4 linked regions of the Homo sapiens genome follow. The protein of the gene in region 1 purifies or fractionates together with the protein of each later gene. This does not show direct contact. Each region holds a gene or a part of one and is shown in the gene's direction. Other genes may lie near its edges.

Region 1 (7,339 bases):
AATTGCTTGAACCCAGGAGGCAGAGGTTGCAGGGAGCTGAGATTGCACCACTGCACTCCAGCCTGGGCAACAGAGGGAGACTGTCTCAAAGGAAAAAAAAAAAAAAGGAAACGAAAATAGGAGCAATCAGGAAACTTGTATGTGCTCCCTCCCCGAAATCAGCAGTCTTCTGTTATGCAAATGATACGTCACTGCCCCTAAGGCCAACCCTTCACTGGTGCCCTGGATCCCATCCCCTCTCACCCACTGCACTCCAGTCTGGGTGACCGACAGAGCGAGACTCCGTCTCAAAAAAAAAGACTTTCCTCTTGAAATTACTCCTCTCTTTCTTGTGTCCTCAAATTTTCCTTCTCCACTGTATCGTTCTTACCAGCTTACAACTGATACCTCTTTTTTTTTTTTTGAGACAGAGTCTCACTTTGTTGCCCAGGCTAGAGTGCAATGGCGTGATTACAGTTCACTGCAGCCTCTACCTCCTACGCTCAAGTGATCCTTCCACCTCAGCCTTCTGAGTAGCTGGGACTACAGGCATGTGCCACCATGTCTGGCTAATTTTTTAATTTTTTTGTAGAGACAGGGCCTCTGTACGTGTGCGTGCATGTAATTAGGTAAGCAAAGATACTGTGTGCCAGTGGGAGTATGGGCTTGTATCAGATGATGCTGTTGGGTTCTTGTGTATGTTCTGTGCTTTTCTGGTCTAATTTCCCCAAGACAGGACTGGACCCAGAGCTGGCTTCCAGGAGATTCACAGACCATCACAGCTGGAAGGAGGCCAAGAGAAAACACAGTCCCCATTCCTCACTTCACATATATGGAAACTGAGGCCTAATTTTTAAATGTTTTTGTAGAGGCAGGGCCTCATTATATTGCCCATGCTGGTCTTGAACTCCTAGGCTTAAGTGATCCTCCTGCCCTGGCCTCCCAAAGTGTTGGGATTACAGGCATGAGCCACTATGCCCAGCCCAATCCTTTATTGATGGAAATTTTTCTTATGTCCATTTCTTCCTTCTTGCAAATATCTGTTTGTATACCTACATACTGGTGGAAAAATAACAACATAAGGTAAATGTTTGGCAGTAGAAATATTAGGTTAAGTGGCATGTTCATTTTTAATTTGTTTTTGAGAAAGGATCTTGCTCTTTCACCCAGGCTGGAGTGCAGTGGCATGATCTCGGGTCACTGCAACCTCTGCCTCCCAGGTTCAAGCGATTTTCCTGGCTCAGCCTCCCTGAGTAGCTGGGACTACAGGCTTGTGCCACCACGCCTGGCTAATTTTTGTATTTTTAGTAGAGACGAGGTTTCGCCATGTTGGCCAGGCTGGTCTCGCACTCCTGACTTCAGATGATCTGCCTGCCTCGGCCTCCCAAAGTGCTGGGATTACAGGGGTGAGCCACCGAGACCAGCTTTCATTTTTAATTTTTGTGATTACCAATTTGCCTCCTAAAAAAGTTGTACCAGTTTATATGGCTACCCACACTTCATGCGATGCCTGTGTACTTGTCCAAACTGGGTGTTATTGAGCTTTTACTTTTTGCTAATCTATGATGTGAAAATGATATCTTTTTCTGATTTACGCTTATATAATTCTGAGTGAAATGGAACTTCAATTTTTTTTTTTTTTAATTTTTTTGAGACGAGGTCTCACTCTGTCACCCAGGCTGGGCTGGAGTGCAGTGGTGTGATCTCGGCTCACTGCAACCTCCACCTCTTGGGTTCGAGCGATTCTTGAACCGTGCATCACCATGCCTGGCTGATTTTTGCATTTTTAGTAGAGATGGGGTTTCTTTCTTTCTTTCTTTCTTTTTTTTTTTGAGCAGCAGCAAGATTTATTGCAAAGAGCGAAAGAACAAAGCTTCCACAGTGTGAGAGACCCGAGCGGGTTGCCCGAGATGGGGTTTCATCACGTTGGCCAGGCTGGTCTTGAACGCCTGACCTCGAGTTATCCACCCGCCTTGGCCTCCCAAAGTTCTGGGATTACAGGCATGAGCCACCATGCCCAGCCAGTAACATTTTATAATGTTAAAAAGAATCCTGTAGGCCGGGCGTGGTGGCTCATGCCTGTAATCCCAGACCTTTTGGAGGCTGAGGTGGGTGGATCACCTGAGGTCAGGAGTTTGAGACTAGCCTGGCAAACATGGTGAAACCCCATCTCTACTAAAAATAGAAAAATTAGCAAGGCGTGGTGGTGGGTGCCTATAATCCCAGCTCCTCGGGAGGCTGAGGCAGGAGAATTGCTTGAACCCAGAAGGTGGGGGTTGCAGTGAGCTGAGATCATACTACTGCACGCCAGCCTGGGCGACAGAGTAAGACTCCATCTCAAAAAAAAAAAAAAATCCTGTAGATAGTTTAATTGGGATCATATAAAAGATATATTTTAGGGAAAATCAACATTTTTAGCTGATTGAGCCTTTCTCTTTAAGAAAAATATATGTTTATTCCATTTTCTATTTATTCAAGGTTTTTTTTAATATCCCTGTGGTATAATATGAAATATATAGTTGTCATTTTGTATCCATGGGAATTGTTCCCAGAACCCCCTTGGATGCCAAAATCCTTGGATGCTCAATTACCTTTTTTTGTCCTTTTCTTGTAGAGATGGGTGTCTCACAATGTTGCCCTGGCTGGTCTTGAACTCCTGGGCTCAAGCGATCCTCTCACCTTGGCCTCCCCAAAGTGCTGAGATTGCAGGTGTGAGCCACCATGCCTGGCCTCAAATCCCTTATATAAAATCAGATAGTACTTGCATATAACCTATGCACATCCTCCTGTATACTTTAAATTACAAGTAACTCTAGGTTACTTGTAATACATAATGCAGTGCCTACTCATCACTTCATTCACATGGATTCAACTTAGTACTTAGCATGGGGCAAAATTTAAGTTTTGCTTTTTGGAACTTTGTGGATTTTTTTCTTCAAATATTTTTGGTTCTAGGTTGGTTGAATCCAGGGCTGTGGAACCCACTGATACTGGTATGGTATTTGGTATTTGGCCTTTGTTTTGTTTCTGTCACAGCTCTTTTTTTTTTTTTTTTTAGATAGTCTCACTCTGTCACCCAGGCTGGAGGGCAGTGGCTTGATCTCGGCTCACTACAGCCTCTGCCTCCCACACTCAAGCGATTCTTCTGATTCAGCCTCCCAAGTAGTTGGGACTACGGGTGTGCACTATCACACCGAGCTAATTTTTGTATTTTTTTTTCTTTTTTTGAGACAGAGTCCCACTCTGTAGCCCAGACTGGAGTGCAATGGCGCGATCTCTGCTCACCACAACCTCCGCCTCCCAGGTTCAAGCAATTCTCCTGTCTCAGCCTACCGAGTAGCTGGGATTACAGGCTCCCACCACCATATCTGGCTAATTTTTGTATTTTTAGTAGAGGCAGGGTTTCACCATGTTGGCCAGGCTGGTCTCAAACTCCTGACCTCAAGTGATCCGCCCACCTCAGCCTCCCAAAGCGTTGAGATTACAGGCGTGAGCCACCGCACCCTTCCTGCTTCTTCTTTCTTAATACTTATTTATTTCTCTTTACTGATTGAATGCACCCCCAATATAATGTTACAGTAGCCATCCTTGCCTTCCACTGGCAGTGCTTATAGTATTTTATAATTAAACGTGGTTGTAACTTAAAAAAAAGTCTTTTTTAGTTCTTCTGTGAATCAGCTTTGTTCCCTTTAGAGATTCAGTGAGTCTTCTCTGTCTGCATCCAAATGTTGGTTCAAACCTTGAGCCTCACACCCTGCCTGAGGCACCCTTCTCTGGTTTGATGTTGAACTATTGTTCAACAGTCAACTTTTTGGTTGTGCTTGTTTATCTGGCAACAGGTCCTTCGATCAGGACATCCAGTTTACTGTTGCCATTGATTTCACAGGCCTATGAGAGATACCCTGTCAAGGGCCCCTAAAAACCCAGATACTCCATGCCCTTGCCATTCCCCTGATCTAGTGACCCAGCTGGATAAATGAAAAGACACAAGGGTTGTGCAAATGAGCAGCTAAGTACTGGGAGCTTCTCCAGCTTTCTGAGAAAGAGGAGGGTGGCCCCAGAAGGCTCTGACTGGGTCCAACCCTGCAGCATCTCCCTGAGATGCTGGCATTCCTTGGGCCGATCCCACAGCAGCTGCAGTGGTGTGCTGGTGAGAGAAGATTGTGTGGATTTCTTTCCAGCTTTGTATTCAGCGACAACCTGTTTGTGGTTTGTAAGCAGCCATCGTGGAAGTATTTACACAACGGCAAGCACTAGGACTCAGGCCCCCCCACCTTTCTCTGCTGGTGCTCCTTGGAGAGGCACCCCGTGGCGGTGCAGTTTTGGGGCTGCAGCCTCCTTCTTTAGAGAAGGGGCAGGTGCCACTGCTCTCTGAGGGAAGGGCCTTGAGAGAATAGCAGCTGACAGTTCTTCCCTCCCTACTTTCTCAAGAACCCCAGTTTCTAACTCTACCCTTCCCTTTGGTGTCTCCTCAGGATGTGGGCTCTCTTGATGAGAAGATGAAGAGCTTGGATGTGAATCAGGACTCGGAGCTCAAGTTCAATGAGTACTGGAGATTGATTGGGGAGCTGGCCAAGGAAATCAGGAAGAAGAAAGACCTGAAGATCAGGAAGAAGTAAAGCCGCCTGGCTGAGATGGGGTGGGCAGGGCAGAGCTGATCAGGGCCGAGCAGAACCGCACTCTTCCCAAATAAAGCTTCCTCCTTGAAACACAAATGTTTCTTACTTACACCCCATCCTGATTTCTTTTCTTGAGACCAGAGAGTGGGAAAGCTCTCTCTTGACCTGAGGATGGATCTGAAAATTATGAGCCCCTTGAGGACAGGGAATGTTATTCATCTTTGAATTCCGCAGCATCTAGCACCAGGTCTTGTACAGAGCAGGTGCCCAATAAATGGTTGAATGAATATATGAAAAGTAGAGGCAGAGGGCTGGGCACAGTGGCTCACGCCTGTAATCCTAGCACTTTGGGAGGCTGAGGTGGGTGGATCACTTGAGGTCAGGAGTTCGAGACCAGCTTGGCCAACATGGCTAAACCTCATCTCTATTAAAAATACAAAAATTAGCTGGGCTGGTGCCTGTAATCCCAGCTACTCAGGAGGCTGAGGCAGGAGAATCACTTGAACCCAGGAGGAGGAGTTTGCAGTGAGCCGAGATCGCACCATTGCACTCCAGCCTGGGCGATAGGAGCAAAACTCCATCTCAAAAACAAAAAACAAAACAAAACAAAAAGAAAAAAGAAAAGTAGGGGCAGAGATGTGGGGCAGGAGAGGTGACTCGGGCTCAGCTGCATGGTCCTGCTCTGCTTCTTTTTTCTTGGAGTTTGTCCGTTGGATGACAATGATAGTGGTGAACAGGTATGGAGGGCTTACTAAGTACCAGGTGCAGTGCTAAACATTTTGCCTGTATTGTCTTAGTTAATTCTCACAGTCCTTTGAGGAAGGCACTATTTTTAACTCCTGTATTAAAGATCAGGACACAGATCTTAGTTAAAGTCATAAAGACAAGAATAGGTGGATTTCAGAGCTCTGATTAACCAGGATCCTCTCTGGCTGGGTGCTCAGGAACACTAGGGCCTCCTCCCCTTACCCTCTGGAGCAGTGGGGAAGCCAGAAGGAGGGGCCCGATGTTCTGCTCAAGGACCGTGGGGTGAGGGTGTGGTGGTGCCACCGGAGGCAGAACTTGCCTTGCCTTCCTGGCTTGAGGGGCATATGGTGTACACGGCCACCACCAGAGGGAGCAGGGGCGGGCATCTCGGTGACCAGCCTCCCAGGGCTGTCACTGCCTCACTGGCAGGCATCCATGCAGGGCAGCTATGAGTCCAGAGGAACCTTTAGGCTGAGGGAGCTCCCTGACCCTCCGTTAGAGAGCCCCAGACTGAGACCTCAGAGAGACTCCCAGACTGGGAATCCAAAGGGCCATTGGCAGAGACATTCAAGAGGGGCTCCTGCACTGAAGGGCTCCCTTACCGTGAGAAGCCCTGTGAGGAACCCCCTAGCCTGAGCCTCCTCCTGAGGAACCCAGGCTAAGTCACTCTCAGAGGAACCCACAGGCTGAGAGACCCTCAGAGGGACCTGCAGGTTGAAGCCCTTCAGAGGAACTCTCAGAATGAGACATTGTTGGAAGGTCCTCTCCATTGAGACACACAGGGCCCCAGGTTGAGAAGGTGACATGAGGAGGGATGTAGTGGGGTGTGCTCTGATCTCAGCGTTTAGGAAAGGATCCTGGGAACTTTGGCTCTGGGCCGCACCCCATCCTTGCCCTGACTCATGCCTACTGCTCTGCCCTTCTTCCTACCCCCTCCCAGTGACTTCAGGTTCTAGGTGTCTGGGCCTGGGCAGGTGAGGAGGGCCACTGGGGTTGGGCTCTCTGGGATGTCATTCTGGGTCCTGGATGGGGGGCTGTTGCTCTGCAGCTGGGTTAGGGAAGGCATGGGGCTCTGAGGGAGGGAGAGAGAAACACGTGGCCCGACCAGTTTGGAGTTGGTGTTAGCTGCCAAGCAGCTCAAGTGGGCCTTGCATTTGTGCACTCTGGGCCGCTGAGGGGAGCTGAAGGGAGGTCAGGCAAACACTCACTCAATCTGCCTCCCTCCATCAGGCTGCCCTTCTCTGGCTTCCTCCTGATCCAAGTTCTCTACATTCATCTCTCTGCCTCCAGGACTGGTAAAGGCTGGGCTCTGGGATCCAGGCAGGCTTGAGTGTCAGTATCCAAGCTGGGCCTGACTGGGAGAAGTGTGCGTGTGCGTGTGTGTGTGTGTGTGTGTGCACGTGAGAGAGAGAGAGAGACAGACAGACACACATGGAGGGTACAGAGGCTCCTGCTTCTCCTTCCTGGTCACAGATTCAGACCCCCTCTCCTTCCCTGCCCTGCAGTTCGCCAGGGCCCTTCCACTTCCTAGGGTGACCCCATGAGGTCTCGAAGTCCTCTCTGTCTCCCCAGCCTTCTCGCTTCTCTTTCTCTGTGACTCTGCATGCTGATCGGAGGCCAGGGGTTTCCCAGCCCCAGCCCTCTGTGGCTCCCTCCTCGTGGCAGGGTCATGGTAGGCTCTGGAACTCTGGCCAGCGGAGGGTGGGGCCCATAAAGCTGGCTCATAGCCCAGGCTGCTGCAATAGCAGGGGTGGCTTAGGCCCAGCCCCCTGCCTCCCCTCCCTTCCCCCAGGTATAAGAGCTGAGCTCAGGTGAGCTGGCTCCTCCTGTCTTGTCTCAGCGGCTGCCAACAGGTAAGGAAACCCAAGGCTTTTCACCCAAATATACTGCCTGCTGTCCAGAGGGCACACTTAGGGTAAGAGCTGGGGGATCAGATCCTGGAGGTTGGTGTGTGTGTTTCAAGCAGAGGTGGGTGGTTGGAGGAGGTGGAAAGA
Region 2 (7,735 bases), on another chromosome or scaffold:
GGATGGGTTTCCCAGGGTTCTGTGTGGTCACACAACTCAACAATACAGACCAGAAAGCAGTGGCAAGTAGGCTGAATTTGGCTGGTGGGTGTTTTCTGTTTGGCCTGCACAGTGTTTCTTTTAACGTTTTATTATAGGAAATTCAAACATGCAGAAGGAATTGTACCATCAACAACACACACCCATCACTCTGCTCCAACAATGATCAACTCAGGCCTATCTTGCTTCATCCTATACCCTCCCTCGCTTGCTTCCTTCCCACCCTCAGATATGTGGAAGCAAATCCAAAGATACCATTCCATTTCAAATATTTCATTTTGTATCTCTATAATATGGGAATTTGGGGGGTTTCAAGACAGGATTTCACTTTGTTGCCCAGGCTGGAGTACAGTGGTGTGATCATGGCTCACTGCAGCCTCCACCTCCCAGGCTCAAGGGATCCTCCCACCTCAGCCTCCCAAGTAACTAGAGTTAAAGGTGTGCACCACCACACCTAGCTATTTTTTTTTTATTTTTTGTAGAGATGGGGGTCCCATTACGTTGTTCAGGCTGGCCTCAAACTCCTGGGCTCAAGTGATCCTTCTGCCTCAGCCTCCCAAAGTGCTGGGATTATAGATGTGAGCCACTGTGCCCAGCCAGGAGCTTTTACATAATCCTTTTTGACAAATTTTCCCCCAAGAAATTAGAAAGTTTTATAGAAAAAAAAAATCCGGACTTCTGTCTTCTCTTAAAAATTTGGAAGCTCTGCCAATACTGGGCCCAGATGGCAATCACTGCTTAGCACGGAGTAGATGTTGACTTTTCAGATGAGGGGTGTGACATCTACTTTGCCACAGTCCCCACCACTCCCCCACCTGGCCATCTCACCCATACACATCACCTGCCTGGCTCCTTTAGGCATTTAATTTGTGTAGGAAATTGACCTAAAGGAGATATTAGAGAAGACATTAAAAACTTGAAGAATGTGAAAATCAGCCAGGAGATAGAACTGTGCTTTAATGCGGGTTATAGAACGACATTGGATATGAAGCATTTTGGGAATAAACTTTGAAAATTGGAAGTACCAGTTTGTGAATTTTGCTGAGAGAGATGAAGGTGGGGGGTGGGTGACAGTGGTGAAGCATCTCCTATGTGCCAGTCTCTTTTACCACAGGCTGTTTCTCACAAAATCATCAATCATATGCAGCAGGTGAAACACCTTCCTATTTTACAGATGAGGAAACTGAGGCACAGAGAGGTGAAATAGGCTTCCCAAGGTCACTCAGGTCATGAGCAGCAGAGCTAGGATTCAGACCTGGAGTTGGCCTGACTCTAAAACGATGCATGCCTCACCATGGCCCATCACTCCTTTAAAGAGCACCAGAAGAGAGAATTTGACAAAGTGGTTGCCCGTGGGGCCTGGGATGGGTGGGGAAACCACGCTAGGCCTCGGGGCTGCTGAGGGCCTGAGGGAAGGAATGGGGAGCCCGGGCACAGAAATAGAGGAGGGGGCTGCCCCACGGCTACAGAAGGCATCTGGGAAGACGCTCTGCTGAAGGTGGCCAGGAGGGCAAAGGTCACAGTGGCCATTGTTATATGGTGGTGGTGGGGAGAGGGGGATGGCTTCTTCTTAACCTCCTCGGGTGAGTCGAAGGTTTACCCTCCAGACCCTTGATGGGTCCCTTTGGTCCCTTGGGCTTCCTGAGTCTCCAGCCAGGGCCTGGGACCTTTGCTGGGAGCTTAGCATGGGGTCCAGCAGCCCCCATTGCTACCTAATTCCTTAGCAGCCCAGGGTGTCTGCCTGCTACTTCCCTGCCTGGAAGGAAGGCCTTCTGCCTGGTGCATTCCTGCTGCAGCCTCCACTGCCTCTTAGACTCTCACACAAGCTCAGCTCCCTGTCGCGTCCTCTCAGGGCCAGGCTTCTCCTTATCACAAGCTTAGACTGTCTGAGTAACTAATTGGATTTGTGTTTGCCTCCACACAGGACCCTAAGACCCGTGGGGCTGCGACTCCCTCTGTACTGGTCACAGCCGCACCCTATCCCCTTGCATGGGGCTGTCAAACCCAGGCTGGCCACTGACTAGCGCTGGAGGGGAGCAAACGGGAGGCCGGCCACCTGACTGATGTTCCCACACCTTCTCCCTGCAGGCTGTCCCCTTTTCTGGGACTATTCAAGGAGGTCTCCAGGACGGACTTCAGATCACTGTCAATGGGACCGTTCTCAGCTCCAGTGGAACCAGGTGTGTGTGTATATGGATGGAAACGTTTCACTCCAGCCTCGTCCCTTAGTAAACCACTGTGCCTGTGAGCCTGGGTTAGTTCAAACAGCAACATCCAAGCTCACGTGCCTGGCTCAGGGGAGGCCCAATGCGTCCCTAACCCATGCCACAGGGCAGCACTCCACAGGCACAACCTGCACCCAGGGGTGCCATTAACCTGGACTCCAGGATGAATGGGGCCCTGGGAGCTGACGGTCTAAGGAGGGCGTGGGATGGTCAGAGTTGGATGATTATGTTCTGGGTTGAACCTTGCACACTGTGACTAAGAGTTGCAAAAATCAAACTTCCTCCATTTCCCGTAACTGCTCTCATCCACTCTGAAGCTCTCCTTCTGCTGATGTGAAAATATTGAAAATTGCCATCAAAAGTAATTTGGTCTCTTTTGGTTTCAAGGCCTTTTCTAGAAACTACTAAGTCAATTCAACATACTAACATTGTATCAGGGCTGTTTCCCACCCCCTCCTCCCTCCCAAGGTGGGCTGTCTGGGAACAGAGAAGAGCTCACATGGCTTCTCAGTGGCTGGGAGGGCTCTAGACCCTCACTCAGGCCTGGCTGACCCCTGCCGAGGCACCCCGACCGGGTGGCACAGAGGTGTGCAGCTCTCTCCTGGTTTAGTGGGGGACCATGGGTGGCTGCCTGCTGAACTCTGCGGGGCCCACAGAAGAGCCTCTGGACTCATGACTCTCTCTCGGAAGCCTCTCTGCCTCAGTCCCAGGGGACCTCTCCTTAAGACCTTCTGGGCCTCACAGATCCCAGCTAAACCTCAGCTTGGACACCTAGATTCTTGGTGACCTCCTCCGCCATTGCCATCCTGCTGTGGGACTTCTCTGAGAGACTGCGGTGCCCTCAGGAGATGCCAAGGGCAGGGAGGCCCCGATCTCCCTGAACCCTCCAACCAGGGGAATCAGGACCATGACCCTGATCTTCCGCCCCTTCCTCTCTCCCTCTCCCTCCACCTCCCCCACCCCCCAGCACCAGGAGGGCTTCCCACTCCCATCCTGTCATATAGAGACAGATCCTACCTCAGAGGGCCCTCTCCTCTTGGGAGCTTTCTGTCTCTCCCTTCCTTGGGGCAGGAATTTCGAAAGGACTACAGGGATGAAGCTGAAGGACTCCAAAGGAAAAAATACATGCAGATATATTTCAAATGCAATCTTCTCCATTTATTCATTTAATTAATTAATTTTTTTCTTTTGAGACAGGGACTTTCTTTCACCCAGCCTGGAGTTCAGTGGTATGATCATAGCTCACTGCAGCCTCAAATTCCTGGGCTTGAGTGATCCTCCCATCTCAGCCTCCGGAGCAGCTGGGACTACAGGAGTGCACTATGATGCCCAGCTAATTATTATTATTATTATTTTGAGATGGAGTCTCGCTCTGCCACCAGGCTGGAGTGCTGTGGCGCTATCTGGGCTCACTACAACCTCCGCCTCCTGGGTTCAAGTGATTCTCCTGCCTCAGCCTCCTGAGTAGCTGGGACTACAGGCTCATGCCACCATGCCTGGCTCATTTTTTGTATTTTTAGTCGAGACGGGGTTTTACCATGTTGGCCAGGATGGTCTCGAACTCCAGACCTCGTGATCCACATGCCTCAGCCTCCCAAAGTGCTGGGATTACAGGCGTGAGCCATCATGCCCAGCCAATTTTTTTTTTTTTAACTAGAGATGAGCTCTCACTATGTTGCCCAGGCTGGTCTCAAACTCCTGGGCTCAAGTGGTCCACCCGCCTTGGCCTCTGCGCCCAGCCCCAATTTCACATGCTCTTTACATTTGTTCTCTTCTTTCCCATTTAATCAGGCATGTGCTGGCCTCCAACAAGTGTCCACTGGCACAGAAGGCTCTCTCTTCTAGGTGTGCTTAACAACTTCCATCTTCGGTATCAATTGGTAATCACTTTCCAAGACCTATGTTTCTTGTTTGCTAATACCAGCACTTTTCCTTAACCGTTTTCTATTTGCTTTTAGCAAATCATGCTGTAAAGGCAAAATCCAATAATTAAAACAAAAACACATTAGATCCCAATTAGAAAAACAAAAACGATGCCAACAAAGCAGTCTCTGCCATACAGGTTGTGTGCAAGATCCAGACAAATGCAAAGCACAGGCGCCGAGGCCCTCCTGTGCCTGTCACTGGCAATAATCCATGCCACAGAAGACTATTTGCTTTCCCTGGGCCTAGGTTTGCTGTGAACTTTCAGACTGGCTTCAGTGGAAATGACATTGCCTTCCACTTCAACCCTCGGTTTGAAGATGGAGGGTACGTGGTGTGCAACACGAGGCAGAACGGAAGCTGGGGGCCCGAGGAGAGGAAGACACACATGCCTTTCCAGAAGGGGATGCCCTTTGACCTCTGCTTCCTGGTGCAGAGCTCAGATTTCAAGGTGAGCAAGAATCCCCTCCCCACCTCTCACCCCTGGGACCCCCAGCCCTATCAGGTGAATGGCCTTTAAGTAATCACCTAAATTGACATTCAGCCAGAGTGACACCACTATACAGATAACACGCTCATTTCCTTGTGAGGTGTTACCCATGGCTGCCTAGTCTCCTTATGCACCTTCATCTGAATCTACAGGTGCACCTGCTGCTTCTTTTACTCTGAAAATAAGAACTAGAGGAGTCATCACGTTGCTATTTGGTGTTGTGTGTCTTTGAATTCCAAGCTCATTCCATTCCTCTGCTATAGCCATTCCTCCTCTCCAGGTCACTGGTAACATTTATTTTTCAGCGACATCGTTCCAGCCTTTATCCAGGGTCTATTAAGGGTATAGTTTTGTAAGCACATTGCAAATTACCCTTGCAAGCAGAGTAGGTCTCTGGGCTTGAGAAGCCTGTGGGTAAGTCAGTCCAAGTATGCTTATCTGAGATAAGGATGTCCCCATTCGTTCAGTATGCAACCTGAGGTCACCTCTCCTCTGCTCCCCATGAGCATTTTATGCATATATAAATAATACCGCTGCAGCCATAAAAAGGAATGAGATCATGTCCTTTGCAGGAACATGGATGGAGCTGGAAGCCTTTATCCTTAAACTAACGCAGGAGCAGAAAACCAAACACCACATGTTCTTACTTATAAGTAGGAGCTGAACGATGAGAACACATGGACAAAATGGGGGGAAACAACACACCCTTGGGCCTGGTCGGAGAGGGAGAGCATCAGGAAGATTAGCTAATGGATGCTGGGCTTGATACCAAGGTGATGGGTTGATCTCTGCAGCAAACCACCATGGCACCCGTTTACCTAGTTAACAAATCTGCACATCCTGTACTTGCACCCTGGAACTTAAAATCAAAGTTGAAGGGGATGGAAATGGCAGATCACGCCTATAATCTCAGCACTTTGGGAGGCTGAGGAGGGCGGATCGCTTCAGGTCAGGAGTCCAAGACCAGCCTGGCCAACATGGTGAAACCCCATCTCTACTAAAAATACAAAAATTAGCTGGGTATGGTGGTGGGCTCCTGTAATCCCAGCTACTCGGGAGGCTGAGGCACGAGAATCACTTGACCCACTGCACTCCAGCCTGGGCGACAGACTGACATTCCATCTCAAAAAACAAAAAAAAACAGTTGAAGGAAAAATAAATAATTAATAAATGAAACCCCAGGTGAGCTAAGACTAGAAAGACAAACCTACTGCAGGAAACAACCAGAAGAACGAAAAGTCCAACTGGAGCCTGGTAGAGACTCGGGTTGATGCACTTTGGGTCACACACACGTTCCTGTAACTGGCCCCACACTGAAGACCAGACTCAGGTCTTCATTTTCTAGAAAGAGGGTCCAGGAGCTCAGGGGTGGTCCCCATCCCAGCCTGGGATGCCTCCCCCAGAACATGTGCTCTCCTCTGGCAGGTGATGGTGAACGGGATCCTCTTCGTGCAGTACTTCCACCGCGTGCCCTTCCACCGTGTGGACACCATCTCCGTCAATGGCTCTGTGCAGCTGTCCTACATCAGCTTCCAGGTCAGACTGTCCACCTGGCACCGGTCCCAGGGGCTGGGATGCAGGGCCCAGCGTAGCTGTGTCTAAGCCCTGCTGGGTGGGCCCAAGCCAATCTCCTACCCAGGTCACTCTGGGGACAACCTCTGCTTCCCTGTCCCAGTACCTGCCCGCCCCTTCTCCTCTGTCACTCTGCCCCTCCTTCTGTGTTACTGTCTCTGTCCGGAACACCTGCCTTGGTCTCCCAGACTCCTCAGCTGCCCCTTTCTCTTCATCCCTCAGTTTCCATCCTGGTAAGGAGGGCATATTGTTCTAGAAAGAGCCCAGGCTCAAGAACCAAACTGAATCCAGTTCAAATTCCCAGCTCTGCCATTCATCATCTGTGGGATCTTAGACAAGCAACTTCACCTCTCTCAGCCTTGGTTTCTTCATCTGTAGAATGGTCATTGCCTGCCCCCCATGGGTGGTTGTGTGGTTCAGTGAGGAGACAGATATCAGAGGTCACACAGTGGCCCCCCTGGGCCCACACCAGGGTCTGTTTGACCTCTGTGTTTTAACAACTTTGAATGTGTTGCCAACATCTAAAAGGTCAGGAGAGTCAGGTATGGTGGTGGAGGTCTGCAGTCCTGGCTACTCAAGAGGCTGAGGTGGGAGAATTGCTTGAGCCCAGGAATTAGAGTTCTGTCTGGGCAAAACAGCAAGACCCTGTCTCCAAAAAACTTTGTTTAAATAATAAAATAAAATAAATAAAACTAAATAAGGTCAGGAGATACCAATACCATGTGAAAAATGGGAAGATTAGGGTATGCTGGGCCCACATTCCCACAGGGCACCAGCAGCTGGGTGGGAGCTGCTGTTACCCTTTTGGCATTCGAGGCTGCTCCCTGAGATCAGCGAAGCACACAGTAGGCCCTCAGCAAATCTGGGCTTCTCGCCCTTTGGTCCTCATCTCTCATTCCCTCCTTCCCTGACTCTCTCCCCTGCGGGTGGTAGGGGAGGGAAGAGCTGGAGGGAGACCGCACCCCTGCACTGCTCACCAGAGCCTGGCTCTTTCCCATCCCATCTTGGCAGGGCCCTAACCCCCTTGCCTCATCGCCCTGCCTGCCTGGTCTCTCCCTCTTGCCCCTGCCTCTGCCTTTCGGCTTCTCCTTGGCTCTATTAATGCTTCTCCTCACTGCCCGGTGCCTTTTGTTTTAACAGAACCCCCGCACAGTCCCTGTTCAGCCTGCCTTCTCCACGGTGCCGTTCTCCCAGCCTGTCTGTTTCCCACCCAGGCCCAGGGGGCGCAGACAAAAAGTGAGTTCAACACAGAGGCCCTGGGTGGCCGAGCAGACAGTAGGAAGGACCGAGGGTCTGAGAGGCTGGCCCCAGCCAGCAGGCCACTCAGGGCCTACAGGCCGCATCTTGCCCACCCAAGAGTTCCCTGTCTCTGTCCGCTGGGCACCCAGAGCTGGGGACCTGGGGGTCACCCTGGATTCTTCACTCCCTCTTCTTTACGTCTCTCCAAGGCACGAACGTGTCTCCCTCCTGAAGCCACCGATGTGGT
Region 3 (7,453 bases), on another chromosome or scaffold:
TGATACTGGTTATTTGTACTTGAAAGTTACCAAGAGCCAGATGGTAACATTGCCCTTCTTTCCTGCAGACGAAGTTATACGGAAGCGTCTCCTCATTGATGGAGATGGTGCTGGAGATGATCGGAGAATTAATCTGCTAGTGAAGAGTTTCATTAAATGGTGCAACTCTGGGTCCCAGGAAGAGGGGTATTTCATTTTCACTGTTGTTTCCATACCAGTGTCCTAATGTGATTTTAGGCCCTATATTAAGGTCCTGTGAGTAGATCAAATTTTCACTCACCTTAAATGTACAGTGGAGTCAACTCTTAATTAACCAAGAGTAGATTTTCTTGGCCTTTTCTTCTCTTCAAAGGCCTCTCATATGTTTATTAAAACATGGAGAAGGCAGATTGGTAAGGAGAAATGAAGATTAAATTCAGACTCATTAGTTTGGTTACTTTTAGGACATAAGTGTTTAGTAAGATAAAATATCTAAATGGAATTTTCTCCTTTGCTAATAAAAGGCTGCTGCTATGTATGTATATATTAAGTTGGTGCAAAATTAATCGTGATTTCTGCCATTAACTTTAATGGCAGAAATGGCAGAAACCACGATTACTTTTGTACCAACCTGATACACACGCACACACGTATATCTAATCTTTTTTTTTGTGAGACAGAGTCTCATTCTGTTGTTCAGGCTGGAGTGCAATGGCACAATCTTGGCTCACTGCAACCTCCGCCCCCCAGGTTCAAGCAGTACTCGTGCCTCAACCTCCTGAGTAGCTGGGATTATAGGCATGCAACACCATGACTGACTAATTTTTGTATTTTAGTAGAGATGGGGTTTCACCATGTTGGCCAGGCTGGTGTCAAACTTCTAGCATTAAGTGATCTGCCCACCTTGGCTTCCCAAAATTCCAGAATTACAGGCATGAGCTACCACGCCTAACTATATTTATTTATTTTTTAACATAGCAAACTTTTTCTCATTTGAATTTGCTTTCCATATAAATAATTTTATAGAGTGAAAAAATTGTGGGAACAGAATTGTGAAGTTAAAAAAACATCTTAAAGTATTTCTAAAGTCTTTTAAACAAAATTCAAATAATTGTTTGAATAAAATGTGCATTGATAAGAACAACAATCCCACCTTTGCATTTGTAACTAAAGTAGTTAAATTCAAGAATACTACATTTGATAAAAAGAAAACTTAAGGGACAGATATTCTAAATTTTAAATAAGCAAATGATTCTCTCAGAACTTGCTATAATTTAATTAGCAAATATTTGTCTGCATTATAACAGTTCACTTTTGTCAGTCCACAAATATCTTTATTTTGGTTTTCTTTCTTTTTCATTAGATATAGCCAGTACCAACGTATGCTGAGCACGCTGTCTCAATGTGAATTTTCAATGGGCAAAACTTTACTAGTATATGATATGAATCTCAGAGAAATGGAAAATTATGAAAAAATTTACAAGGAAATAGGTAAAGAATCTTAATGTTTCTATCTGTAATTTTATTTTTTATGGTCTAAAGGAAACAATACCTGCTAACAATTTTCTTTGGTGGTAAAAGAATAATAACAATTACTGTATTAATGGAAAGAATACAGTAAATGTTAGCTATAAAAAATGTGTATTCTAAGATGATATAGTACTTTGGGTTACAGCTATTTTTTAAAAATACTAGTGTCTATTTTGTTACCAATAGAGGTTAATTTATAAATGCGTTTTAAAATTAAAAATGGATTATTGATTTTGTTACAACTATCTTTTAAAAAACCTTCTCATATAGAATGTAGCATAGCTGGAGCACATGAAAAAATTGCTGAGTGCAAAAAGCAAATTCTTCAAGCAAAACGAATACGAAAAAATCGCCAAGGTAAGGGTTTTGAGGGATTTAATGTGCAAATACATTATTACTGACTACAGTTTTCATGCAGTTTTTAATGTTGTGAGGTAAAATCTGCAGCCTGAATCAACCTGGATTAAAAAAAATCCAAATTTTAATTCCTTAAAACTATATTATTCTTTAAAATAGAGAAGGAAGTCTGTGTTGAGAAGAATGTTTTTGCTGGATTACATTGATTATCCAAGTATTTCTTTTCTGTTTTTCTCTTTTTTTTTCTTATCCCAGTATTTCTTAAGTATTAAATTTTTACCATCTTGGACCCTTTTGCCTAAATAATGTTATGGTTAATCAGCAGAGGCAATTTACATAAATATACTAGATTTATGGTTTGGGTTTTTTGTTTGTTTGTTTAATAGAGCTACTTTCCAAAAAATGAAATGGAAAAGAATTTAAACTCTGAGTTTTCATTAAGTACAAAGCAAGCAAACATTTCTAGACTGCCTAGAATATCTAATAAGAAGGTTAAAGTTGAGTTTTGTTATAATCTCTTGTTTTTAAGTTAGAGTATACCCTTATGTAGTTCCTAAATACTATTTCAAGATAATTTTTAATGTTAGAGGCACTGCTCTTCTTATAATGTAAATTGAAGAAAAGTAAAAATAAAAAATATAATGTGTAATCACAACTGTTACATTGATATGAAAAACTAGAAGAAAATAGAAAATGTTAATGGTTATTTTGAAGTTGTGGGTTTTTATGGCTTAGGTTCTTTTCTCTGTTTTTGTGTTGTTTTGTTTTGTTTTACATAGGGCATGTATTATTTTGTAATTCAAAAAATTTGTATCCAAAAGAATCATACTTTGAATTAATATGCTCAGTTCTAAAACAATGAATTTTCACTTTTTAATGAACTAATTAAGATGAAGCTTAATTTCCTCTTTTTACAAGTTTTTTTTTTCAGTTTAAAATGTGTATGGTGAAGTTTTGGTGCCTTATTTACAGTAACATATACCAACTTAGTATCAGTTCTAAAGTCATCTAAAAATATTTTGCAGTGTTTTCGTTGGTTAATGAGGCTTTTAAGTAAATCCTGCCACTCATCACTTCATAAGAAAGCTTAACAGGAGTTACATGACTTATCTTGGAGGTCTCAGTGGAGCAGAAAATAGAACCTGAATTTTAAGTTATTTGCAAGTTTCTGAAATCTTAACTTTTGGAATGAGTGAGAAGTGTAATTTGCTGTTGACTAACAACTCAGATTAATGGTAGGATATATTCACTGATTGTATTTTATTTTATTTTACTTTTTGGACAACTAGTGAGTAAGATCCTTCTCAGAATCAGTCTATTTGATAATCAATAATAACTTAAATTTGCTTATGCTTATGCTGACCTCTTACGTTCTGTCCAGGACATATAAATGGAAAAAAAGTGGGAGCTAAAACCCCTGTTTGGAACACTTTTGATGTTATGTATCGTTATAATTATAACTCAGTTAACTAAAACTGGCAATACTCATCTTTCAGTGATTTCATTTCTTGATGTACTAGGAAAGTGATTAGGAGAGGTTTGTGATATTACACATTTTGTTTTGATAATTCACATTCAAAAAATCCTTAGTTTGATAAATATTTTTATGTCTTACAGAATATGATGCTTTGGCAAAAGTGATTCAGCACCATCCAGACAGGCATGAGACATTAAAGTAAGTGTAGAGCTTTACTTTGAAAGGAACTAACCTTTATACATAAATGCTCGAAAACTACCGTAGGCATTTCATTTTTGCAGAAATAAATATGTTTCAAAAGGAGGGGTCAGATATTCAATATTATATTTTCCCATACTTCTCTGTTAGATTTTATTTTCCTCTAACCTTACCAGCTATATGTCTAAAATAAATGCATATAATATGCATCAATATCACAATGGATAAATAGAATATGGTCTTCATATATTAAAATATTGAATTTCAGTTAAAAAGAATAAACTAGTTATGCCCTTTTAAAACACAGCTCTCAAAACATAATCAGTGAAAAGACACATAATAAACTTTAAATTATATTTAAATTCCTGAAACACATACAGAATAATAACCATTTATAAAAGTTAGAACCCCCTTTCAAATATTATATACCAATACTGTGTATTATTCAGGGATACAAGTATATGCATAAAAAAGAATAAGAATGATATAGTAGTTGCCTGAGTGGGAGGTAGAGGAGATAAAAAGGCCCAGGATAGAGGACTAGGCGTAAGATTCAAAGGGTATTTCGAGTTAATTGGCAATGTTTTATTTCTTTTACCAAAATAAAAAACCCTCGAAGTTAAACTTCACAATATGTATCATTTCTTGGGTCTTGTTATTCTGTTATCTGTATTTTTCTGTACTTTAAAAATGGATCCAAAAATGTAATTTTAATGAAAGTGAGTCCATATTTAGAAGTTAAGAAGAAATCATCCTCAGCTTTAAAAGTTTCACCATAATGGAGTGTTATAACTCCTTATAAGCCCTTTTTTTATTTTAAAAATCCTATCTAGTAACTTAAAAGTTAGGCATTAATTGTAAACTCTTCTCCCCCATTCAGCAAAATGTAACACTGTTTTATTATTTCCAGGGAACTAGAGGCTCTGGGAAAAGAATTAGAGCATCTTTCACACATTAAAGAAAGTGTTGAAGATAAGGTATTCGCATATATATTTAGCCTTCATGATCTGTCTATCTGTCTGTCTATATATCTATATATACAGGTCATTTGTATAAATTTTTTTCTTGTTAACACAGCTGGAATTGAGACGGAAACAGTTTCATGTTCTTCTTAGTACCATCCATGAACTTCAGCAAACATTGGAAAGTAAGTAGAAATAGTCTCAAAGTAAATGCTTATGAAGATTTTTTAAATGACCCAGGGATGTACCTTTTGAAATATACATCTTGGAGAGACAGTATACCTTCAATTTCTGAACAGTGTAGCTGGATGACGTTAGAAGGTACTCATGTTCAACTTTCTTGAATACATGTAGAAAAGTCTTAATTTGTAGTAATATAGGATTTAAACATATACATAGTGGTTTAAATTAAGAAAAATTCAAGGATGATAGATTTGGAATCTTTCTTGGTTCACTGTAGTTGACTACTATAATATAACAACTCAGGACCCAGGCAGGCAATAATAAGAAATCAGTACATACGAACATTTGCATACCCACTGAGTAGTGGGTGCTTTGGGGAACTGGAGACTTGCTCTTTATATTCACTATAGGCAAGTGGAAATTTTTGTGTTACCTGATCTTCTGATTGTTTTAAAGAATAGCCTAAGACCCATTTTTTCTTTTCTTTTTTTTTTTTTTAAGACAGTCTTGCTCTGTCACCCAGGCTGGAGTGCAGTGGCACAATCTTGGCTCACTGCAATCCTCACCTTGCAGGCTCAAGTGATTCTCCTGCCTCAGCCTCCCTAGTAGCTGGAATTACAGGTGCATGCCACCACACCCAGCTAATTTTAGTATTTTTAGTAGAGACGGGGTTTTACCATGTAGGCCAGGCTGGTCTTGAATTCCTGACCTCAGGTGATCCACCTGCCTTGGCCTCCCAAAGTGCTGGGATTATAGGCATGAGCCACCAGACCCTGCCTGGATTTTTTTTTTTTTAAGTGAAGTCTATCACATAAATTTTAAAGTTTGATTCAACTAGTAGCCATCTTAGCTTTAATTGTATTGGCTAATAAAGGATAAACATGTTTTCATGTGTTCATCGAATATAAAATATAGGCAAACTTGACTAAGGTTTTATGTTTCCTTCTCAATTACAGATGATGAAAAACTCTCAGAGGTAGAAGAAGCTCAGGAAGCAAGCATGGAAACAGATCCTAAGCCATAGACAGGCTAATTGCCCACCACTCCCAGGAATATTGAAATAGCTACATGACCATAATGTGTTTAAAATGTGGTATGCTCTTGAGATATTTAAAGTTTTGGCAGTAAAATACTCTGTTTTTAAGTATGAATGTATTTCATTCATATTTCCTCTCACAAAGGAAAATGACTTCAGTATAGATTTGTTTTTATTAAAATGCATTTTTTATTCTTAAGTGGTAGGAAGCAACATCCAAAAATGCTTAATAAAATGCTTTTAAGCTGCATATGTTTGTGCTCATTAATATTCTAGGTAGTTTTTAACTGGTAACATTGATTGGCTTACAAAATAAGTTGAAAATTGTTAGAAGTTGGCATTTCTAGGATGTACATGGGAAAATGAGCCAATTTCTGGAAATGGTTACACTTCTGAAAACGGAGTCTATGAAGAGGCTTTAGGAGGACCATGAACCTGTGAAATTACATGCAAAATGTTAGTGGTGTATGCTTATTGTGGAGAGAGGTTCCAGGCTGTTAAAATTCGCTGGTATGGGACGTTAATTATAAGATGCAAAGTAAAATAGTGCACATTACTTTATATATCTCTCCTTAATATGAGAGGAATATGGTTCTCAAATGTTTTGTTGATCTGTTTTCTCTACTGTTTTGTTCTTTAGGAATCATTTTCAATAGAAAAAGATGTATTGATAAAGTGAAGAGTGTTTGAAGTAAATAGTTTGTTAAGATTGTTTTGCGTAGGCCAGGCATGGTGGCTCACACCTTTAATCCCAGCACTTTGGAAGGCCGAGGCGGGCAGATCACCTGAGGTCAGGAGTTCGAGACCAGCCTGACCAACATGGAGAAACCCCATCTCTACTAAAAAAAATACAAAATTAGCCAGGTGTGGTGGCACATGCCTATAATCCCAGCTACTCAGGAGGCTGAGGCAGGAGAATCACTTGAACCCAGGAGGCGAAGGTTGTGGTGAGCCAAGATTGCACCATTGCACTCCAGCCTGGGCAACAAGAGTGAAACTCTGTCTAAAAAAAAAAAAAAAAAGATTGTCTTGCATAAAGAATTTATAATCTTTTTAAAAATTAAGCTAAGGCGGAATCACTTGTAATTTTCTTAAGTATTTCATTATATGTGTAATACTTGTTCAGCTCCATCCTTATCCATTTATTTTAGTTCAGAAACATGACACTTTGCATGAATCATACCTTAATGATGTTACATTTTTGTAATTTTAATAATAATTTTTATCTTTAAAAATGAAAGTTTAAAATTAGCTCAGTTGTAGTCATATTAAAAGTGTCATAATACATATAAATGCTTCCTCTAATTTCATCTGGCAAGTCATGGGAGAAATTTCTTTGCAGAATTGCTATGCTGTGACAATCGTTTTTATTTTCCATTATTAGTAAGAATTATGAAACAAAAATTTGCCTATATTGACTCAGAATTAAAAATCCATTTTTCTTTTTTTTTCTTTTCTGAGACAGGGTCTTGCCCTGTCATCCAGGCTGGAGTGCAGTGGCTTGATCACAGCTCACTGTAGCCTTGACCTCCCAGGCTTAAGCAATTCTTCTATGTCAGCCTCCCGAGTAGCTGGGACTACAGGCAACACATCGCCATACTCAGCTAATTTTTAAAAATTTTTCGTAGTGACAGATTCTCACTATATTGCCCAAGCTGGTCTCAAACTCCTGGGTTCACGTGATCCACCCACGTTAGCCTCCCAAAGTGCTGGGAGTATAGATGTGAGCCA
Region 4 (7,735 bases), 7.2 Mb from region 1:
TCTCTGATAACTTTAACAATGTGCTTTTACATGTTGTTCATTTTTCTTCTAGCTATTTTTAGTGGGAGGATTGGTTAGCATGTCTTAACCTGGATTTTCATTACATAATTAGAATTCCTTCGATGATTTTTTATCTCAACAATTAAGGGGATGCTGTAGAATGAAAGTGTTCTGTTTCCAGATCACAAACTCTCTGGAGTCAGGAATCATGCCTTATACATGAAGAGGCCCTGCCTCTTCAGGGGCTGGATTGCAGTGGGACTCAGTAAGGACTGAATAATTGATGAAGACAGTATATGTCCTCCTTGTAGGTTTAGTAATGATTTTTTCCATTCACCTTTGTTCTCAGGGTCTTTGTGCAATATTTGGTAGGTTGACTTGTTCTTATAAATAGTGCTAGGATCGTAGGAGACAGAGACACAGAGATGCACAGCACAGTCTCTGCTTTTGAGAAGCTTTTGGTTTGCTAATGGGCAGAGCCAGTACAAGTCATATAAATATAAATGGGAACCTATGTGTTTTAGTCTTAGGAGCATCAAGATCAAAGAAACATATTTCATCAAACAAATAGTATTACAAGTCCTTTAATTATTTACTTAGTCTCTTGAGAAAATGCCAGGGTGAAGCTGTGGCTTGGAGAGACTGCATTCATAATGCACTGGACATATAAAAACCCCTCTGTCTCAATTGCTCTCTTCTTAATAGCCTCCATTTTAACGGAGCCACTTGTAAAACTCTCCCCATCTCTTATTTTCTCTTCCAAATCCTCCCTGAGCCTCCCCAACTCACCCAGAGAGACTTTTTAATTTCCTGCACCTGCTGGGCCATGCCACATAGCTTTATTACTAAAAATGGCTGTAGGAACTTCCAGTTTTGTACACTGACTGCACAGAATTGCTCTAGGTTGTCACACCCCCATATTCATTAGGTTTCATCTTGATTCTTTGAGAGGCAAGTGCTGGGATCTGCCTGGGAAGTGTAGTTTTATTTTTAAAATTGTTTTCTAGGGAGAAATTTTTGTGGAGACTTTCTGATCACTGAAAAACTGGCAAACATCAATAAGTAATGACCAAAATCCAATGAACCAAGTGCCACGAGAGAGGATTATGTATTCAGCTCTGTGAGAGGATGGTTGAGGGGCCATGAGTTCAGCTTGGACGGTTAGTCTTCCTGGGCCTGACCATTCAGAATTTCCAACAGTCACTACTTGCCATTAGTAGTTGCCTCAGCACTGCTTGGAGGGAGTCACCTTAGATGTGGTATTTATAGCATCATGGTTAAGAATTTATCCTCTCAAGCCAAACTGCTGTCTTTACAAAGAGTAAACAAATAAGCTCCCTAGCACCTGTGCTCCCAGCTACTAGGGAGGTTGAGATGGGAGGATCACCTCAAGCCCAGGAGTTCAAGGCTGCAGTGAGCTGTGATTGCGCCACTGCACTCCAGCCTGGGTGACAGAGTGAGACCCTGTCTCTAGAAAACAAAACAAAAGAAAACAAAAACATAACACCAAACTGACTAGGTTTCAGGCTCATCATTCTTTTAACTCATCATACCTTTTAACTTAAATAGTTAAAATGTATAAAGTGTGAAACCTGCCTGTCACATAGTAAGTACTCAAGATTTTAGCTATTGGTCTATGGGATCCCTCAGACTAGGGACACAGAGCTTGGGGACAAGGGGAGGCAGATGGAGGGGATATGCTTTAAGGTGCTCCTAGGTTCTGGGCTCCTCATACTCATCCCCACCCAATTGGCTTAAGGGAAGTCACATCCAGCTGCCCACATTGCTCAGGCCTGACACTCTTCCCGCTACTTTCAGCTTGGGTTCTCTTTCCTAGGATGCCAGGGATCAGCTGACCATGTGGTTAGCATCTCGGGAGTGCCTCTTCAGTTACAACCAAACAGCATACAGACGAAGGTTGACAGCATTGCATGGAAGAAGTTGCTGCCCTCACAAAATGGATTTCATCACATATTGAAGTGGGAGAATGGCTCTTTGCCTTCCAATACTTCCAATGATAGATTCAGTTTTATAGTCAAGAACTTGAGTCTTCTCATCAAGGCAGCTCAGCAGCAGGACAGTGGCCTCTACTGCCTGGAGGTCACCAGTATATCTGGAAAAGTTCAGACAGCCACGTTCCAGGTTTTTGTATTTGGTAAGTCTCCAGGACTGTTCATACTGCCCTCTCTGATTCCTATAGGCCTCTAAGTTCTGTATTTCCAATGCCTTTCTGATCAGAATCTCTGCTTCCAGATAAAGTTGAGAAACCCCGCCTACAGGGGCAGGGGAAGATCCTGGACAGAGGGAGATGCCAAGTGGCTCTGTCTTGCTTGGTCTCCAGGGATGGCAATGTGTCCTATGCTTGGTACAGAGGGAGCAAGCTGATCCAGACAGCAGGGAACCTCACCTACCTGGACGAGGAGGTTGACATTAATGGCACTCACACATATACCTGCAATGTCAGCAATCCTGTTAGCTGGGAAAGCCACACCCTGAATCTCACTCAGGACTGTCAGAATGCCCATCAGGGTAAGTGGAACACACTGGGCTATAACAAGCGCTGAAGGTTTGGACCCCGCAACCAGGCTCATGTGCAAGACAGATGTGGTATGAGATAAAATCCCTTGGCCTCCTCTCCCAGTGCCTTGTAGCCCTTCCCAGGGTAGCCCTGGCCTCCAGGCACACAGTTCCTGTAAAGCTAGGCCTATCCTACTCTGGAAAAAAATGTTATCCCTATTTCCTTCTGGGAGATGCAAGCTTTTCTTCTGCAGAGGGAGGGCATAGTTGTTTGGTGAGTGACAGTCCTGAAATGGCTCCTGAACATTATTTTCTTCCTGGGAGAGGCTGATGGAGAACTGTCCTCTCCTCTTGAGTGATAACTTTCTCCAAGCCACATAGTTCAAGAGGTAACTACACTGTGCAGCAGTAGCCTGGAGCAGGAGCATCAGGATGACCCCAGGGATACCTAGATGAGTTCTTGGGCTGTTGCTTATGCTCATCCTAAGAGTTACCTGAGTTACCGTTCCACAACTTTTTATTACATAAACAGGGACTTAATGTACCAGCAGCATGGGCATTATAGGAAAAAAAAACCATACAGCTCTCATTCATAAGGAACTTATAGCCAAATGGGGCAACAAAAATAACTACTTGTGGACAAAAAAGAAACAAGACTGAGGCAGGCCGGGCGCAGTGGCTCCCTGTAATCCCAGCACTTTGGGAGGCTGAGGTGGGTGGATCACAAGGTCAGGAGTTTGAGACCAGCCTGGCCAACATGGTGAAACCCTGTCTCTACTAAAAATACAAAAAATTAGCTGGGCGTGTTGGCGGGCACCTGTAATCTCAGCTACTCAGGAGGCTGAGGCAGGAGAATTGCTTGAACCCAGGAGGCGGAGGTTGCAGTGAGTCAAGATCATGCCACTGAACTAGGACACTGGCTTCATCATTCAGAAGCTCTGTGATCTCTTAGAGGTCAGGTGTGGTGGCTCACACATGTAATCCTAGCACTTTGGGAGGCTGAGGCAGGTGGATCACTTGAGTCCAGGTGTTTGAGACCAGCCTGGACAATATGGTGTAATCCCATCTCTATTTAAAAAAAAAAAAAAAAGAAGCTCTGTGATCTCTGGCAGATTCATTAACCTCTCTGAGCCTCAATTTTCTTCCCCCCTTGAGTAAAATGGGGGTGATAATAAGTACCTCACAGGATTGCTGTTAAGAGTAAATGAGATAATGTTTGCAAAGAGCCTTGTCAGCCCTTGGAACACTTAATTCCTTTTCCTTCCTCTTGTTGGCTGGATTATATATCAGGCTACATGTGTGACACAAATCTTTTAAGTAGAAGTTCAAATGAGGAAGAGCCATGAAGGAAGGAATAGTGGAAAAGTGAGACGGAAAACTTGCCTGTACAATGAGTATTTTTTGAGTTAAAAACAAAGGAATGGATAAATGTAACATTTGTTGTGCTACATGTCCCTCAGTATCCATGACGAATTAGTTCCAGGACCCACCTCGCAACCACAGATGCCAAGATCCACGAATGTTTAAGTCCCTGGCATAAACAGGTGCAGTTTTTGCATATAACCTATGCACACATCCTTCTGTATACCTTACTTAAGTCACCTCTAAATTAGTTATAATGCCTGATACAATGTAAATGCTATTTAAATAGTTGTTATACTGTATTGTTTAGGGAATAATGACAAGGAAAAAGGCCTCTACATATTCAATACACATGCATTTTTTTTCCCTGAATATTCTGGATCCACAATTCATTGAATCCACATTGTGGAACTCAAAACTTTGGAGGGCAACTGTATTAGATCATGTAATTAACCCCTATAGGTAGATAACGTTATCCCCTTTTACAGGTGAGAAAATCTAAGAGGCTCTGAGGCATCTTCCAAAAATAAGATGACTTGAGAGGCCCAGAGAGGTTAAATAAATAGTGCAGAGCTCACAGGGTTAGAATTTGAGCCAGGCCTGTCTGATATATCTATGCTCTTGGCATCACTCAGAGGAGGTTAACCAAATGAGCAAAGAGAAAACCTTGACCGTGAGTTCTCAGAGCACGAGGCAATCAGCCACAACACAGAGAAAAGTGGGTTTTGAGGCAGCCCCTGCAGCAGGCAGGTGGGAAGGAAGAAGAGAGCGAGCTGACAGCTCAGTTCTCACGCCTTCTGTATTCCTCAGAATTCAGATTTTGGCCGTTTTTGGTGATCATCGTGATTCTAAGCGCACTGTTCCTTGGCACCCTTGCCTGCTTCTGTGTGTGGAGGAGAAAGAGGAAGGAGAAGCAGTCAGGTGAGTGGAAGGTCCTTAGGGTGGTGCTCCTGCCTGAGGCCTTGGATCCTGTGACTTTGTCCTGCGTCCAGTGGGATGTGTCTGGGAGCACAGCATCTCCTTTTCCTCAACGAGCTTTGGTATGTTTGTGTGCGTGGTGGCGGGGGGCAAGCAGGTTGCTAGGCTCTCTCTCCCAGTTCATGCCTTCTGATCCCAATGCGCAGATTTCCCTGTAGACAGCTGGTTTGGGAGGAGGTGTGGGAGGGGCAGTTCGGTTGCTGCCTCTGTGCTCTTTGGGGTTCCTGGGAAGAGCATTAACTTGCCTCCTTTCTAGAACCTTTTTTAAGGTTTGGCCATTTGGGGTAGAGGTGGGACCTGTTAGAAGCAAAAGCCCTTCTGGAGGTTTCTGCAGCTCTGCTCTTTGTTTTCTTCCTCCCTCAGAGACCAGTCCCAAGGAATTTTTGACAATTTACGAAGATGTCAAGGATCTGAAAACCAGGAGAAATCACGTATGTCATCCCGGAGGCTGGGGTCTCTCTCAGCTGGCTTGGAAAATGCTCTTTCAATGATGGTTATTCAGAGCAGAGGGACAAAAAGGACTGAACGACTGTCCTTTTGATGTGACCCTCAGCCCTTCCCCATCTATCTTTTCTCCACCTGCTTCCTAGTTCTGGTGATGGAGGAAAAGAGGAAACAAAAGGAGCAGAGGAGATGAAAGGGAGGCTGAAGGGGCATCTTGGTGCAGAATTGCACCTGCTGAGAAGGGATGGAGCACAACAGAAATCAATGACAGAGGCAGAGTGCTGCTGTGGTATTTGTTGTCTGACCACAAATTCTTTTTCCTAATGAGTCAGGGCTTACATTCATGAGTCCCTTAATGGTGACACAGGCTGGGAAGTGTGACCAGCCAAAGCATAATAGTTTTGTAGCTGGCTCAATAGGCTGCATTCACAGCCTTTTGGAAGAAGAGGCCTGAGTGTGGCTGAGGTACTAGAGAGAGTAACCAGCCTGGCACAAAGCCCACCAGCCTGAGTAGGCTCCTCCAGGAGCCTCTCGCCTGCTCTTCGCAGCAGGCAGGGGCCAACTCTGCCTGTCATCCAAGAATTAGAAGAGGAGGAAATTGCAGAGGGCCTGCAGATGCCCCCACTGCTGTGTCTCGCTTAGGGCAGATGTGGTGACAGGCCCAGGGGAAAAGCTCTGATGGAGCCTACCAAACTGCTGGCAGGAAGTGGGGCAGGGTGGGTGAAGTGGGGCGGAAGTGCCTTCTTTCCACTGCCCCCTGGCGCTTTGCTGTGGAGACCCAGCAGCACGCAGGAAGCACATGTGGTGGGGCTCTTCCGTGCTGGCCACATACGTGAGGCCCTGTGCAGCCTCGCAGAGCAGGCAAGCATCCTCTCCCAGATGCCTCTGGGTTCAGAGGCTGTTAGAGCAGCTCCCCATGCCTGTTTTTTTATTTTTATCTTTATTTATTTATTTATTTTTGCCCCAGCAGTGGCTATGGGAATGTGAAAAATAAAGCAGTGGCTATTGGAATGTGAATAATAAAAGGGGACTTTGTTTCTCTCACTGCTACCAGACTCTGGTACAAATTCCTGAAAGCATGTGAATCTACCCACAGCCAGTGATGCCCGGGTGCTTGCTAAAAATAATCTATTTTTCCAAAAAGAAGATGACTTGAGATTAGGAGACCACAGGAGGAAAAACAACTTAGAGCAAAGGAAACCTCTTTGGGATTCAGGCCTATTAGCTTACTTCTTCCGACTCAAGAGCTCCTCCCTGCCTGGCCTCAGCCCTCTCTGGCCTCTCCCTATTGTCTCAGGGCTCCAATTTGAAGGCCTAAATCTCAAGTTTCATGTGGTCTCACTTTGAGACCCAGCTCTAATCTTTCTAGAAACACTTCACACGGGTCTGGACGGGAGAGAAAAGCAACAAACTCCTGCAGTATTTTAAAACACAAATGAAGTTATTGACATTGTCAGATGCCCATGACTCCCCAGCCTCTAAGGACAGCTGACAGTTCTCTGCTTCTCTTAGCTTCTTCTTGCTTCCAGGAATTTTGCTTGCACCTTGCCTAATGAACCCTGCTGCCTCCACTGGCTCCCAGTAGAACCCAAACTGGCAATATGCTTTCAGTGGCCGGCAGCATGAAATACCTCCACCACCGATTTCCTAAGGGGTAGGAACAAGAAAAGGGAAGCAGGAAGCTCTGCTTCCTGCTTTGGCCCTTGGGTTCAGGGCTGCACCCAGCACTATAGCTGCCCAGGGCGCTGACTTGAGGTCAAGGGCAAGGTGGCCTCAAAGATGATCTAGAGAGGGCTTAACTGTGTTTGGTCTTTGAAATGTTTAAACTTTCTGAATTTCAGTGCTCTGAGGTAAGGCTCAGATAACAGCCCTACTCAGAGCTCTGCAAGGAAGGGTTTCTAAGTTACTAAAGGAAAGAAAGTGACAGCATTCTCTTTGAGCAGGGTTGCTGGAACCCCTCACACCTAGGTGGTTCCTTGCTCCTGATACTAATGGTTCCACTCCAAACTGCTCTTCTTCCTGTCTCTTCCCATCTTGGGAGGATCAATGACTCTCCCCAGTCCTGCCACCTCCCTCCCAGTCTCCTGAAAAGCCCTCTTCTTTGTGCTGTTTTTCCCCACTCAATCTAAATCTGGACAGACCGAACTGTCGCTCATGTTACCCCATCTCCATTTCTTGTGCAGGAGCAGGAGCAGACTTTTCCTGGAGGGGGGAGCACCATCTACTCTATGATCCAGTCCCAGGTACCTCTCCAGTTTCTCTAGTCCATTCCATACCTATCTCTGGGGTTTCCTAATGCCCCCCTGAAACTCACACCATTGAATGGCAGAATAAGATCTTGGTGCTTCTAGAATCCAGAAGATAGCTTGGCTTCAGTTGCATTAACACATTATTTGAAAAGATCCGTGTGATACTAGAGCATCTTAACACAGCT

The links.
Region 2: the proteins of S100A13 (region 1) and LGALS9 purify together in Homo sapiens (co-immunoprecipitation; one large-scale study listed by IntAct). This does not show direct contact.
Region 3: the proteins of S100A13 (region 1) and THOC7 fractionate together in Homo sapiens (co-fractionation; one large-scale study listed by BioGRID). This does not show direct contact.
Region 4: the proteins of S100A13 (region 1) and CD244 purify together in Homo sapiens (co-immunoprecipitation; one large-scale study listed by IntAct). This does not show direct contact.

What each region holds. Positions count from the first base shown.
Region 1 is NC_000001.11:153,616,154-153,623,492, reverse strand, and holds the end of S100A13 (protein S100-A13), read left to right. Parts: intron 1-4,454; coding exon 4,455-4,598; 3' UTR 4,599-4,694; downstream 4,695-7,339. UniProt on the Homo sapiens protein: Plays a role in the export of proteins that lack a signal peptide and are secreted by an alternative pathway. Binds two calcium ions per subunit. Binds one copper ion. Binding of one copper ion does not interfere with calcium binding.
Region 2 is NC_000017.11:27,636,136-27,643,870, forward strand, and holds part of LGALS9 (galectin-9), read left to right. Parts: intron 1-2,127; coding exon 2,128-2,219; intron 2,220-4,436; coding exon 4,437-4,638; intron 4,639-6,102; coding exon 6,103-6,213; intron 6,214-7,389; coding exon 7,390-7,485; intron 7,486-7,697; coding exon of another isoform or gene 7,698-7,735. UniProt on the Homo sapiens protein: Binds galactosides. Has high affinity for the Forssman pentasaccharide. Ligand for HAVCR2/TIM3. Binding to HAVCR2 induces T-helper type 1 lymphocyte (Th1) death.
Region 3 is NC_000003.12:63,832,389-63,839,841, reverse strand, and holds the end of THOC7 (THO complex subunit 7), read left to right. Parts: intron 1-68; coding exon 69-186; intron 187-1,342; coding exon 1,343-1,470; intron 1,471-1,779; coding exon 1,780-1,866; intron 1,867-3,483; coding exon 3,484-3,541; intron 3,542-4,451; coding exon 4,452-4,518; intron 4,519-4,618; coding exon 4,619-4,688; intron 4,689-5,642; coding exon 5,643-5,710; 3' UTR 5,711-5,972; downstream 5,973-7,453. UniProt on the Homo sapiens protein: Component of the THO subcomplex of the TREX complex which is thought to couple mRNA transcription, processing and nuclear export, and which specifically associates with spliced mRNA and not with unspliced pre-mRNA.
Region 4 is NC_000001.11:160,836,004-160,843,738, reverse strand, and holds part of CD244 (natural killer cell receptor 2B4 isoform 1 precursor), read left to right. Parts: intron 1-1,837; coding exon 1,838-2,155; intron 2,156-2,238; coding exon of another isoform or gene 2,239-2,253; coding exon 2,254-2,529; intron 2,530-4,689; coding exon 4,690-4,800; intron 4,801-5,220; coding exon 5,221-5,288; intron 5,289-7,484; coding exon 7,485-7,544; intron 7,545-7,735. UniProt on the Homo sapiens protein: Heterophilic receptor of the signaling lymphocytic activation molecule (SLAM) family; its ligand is CD48.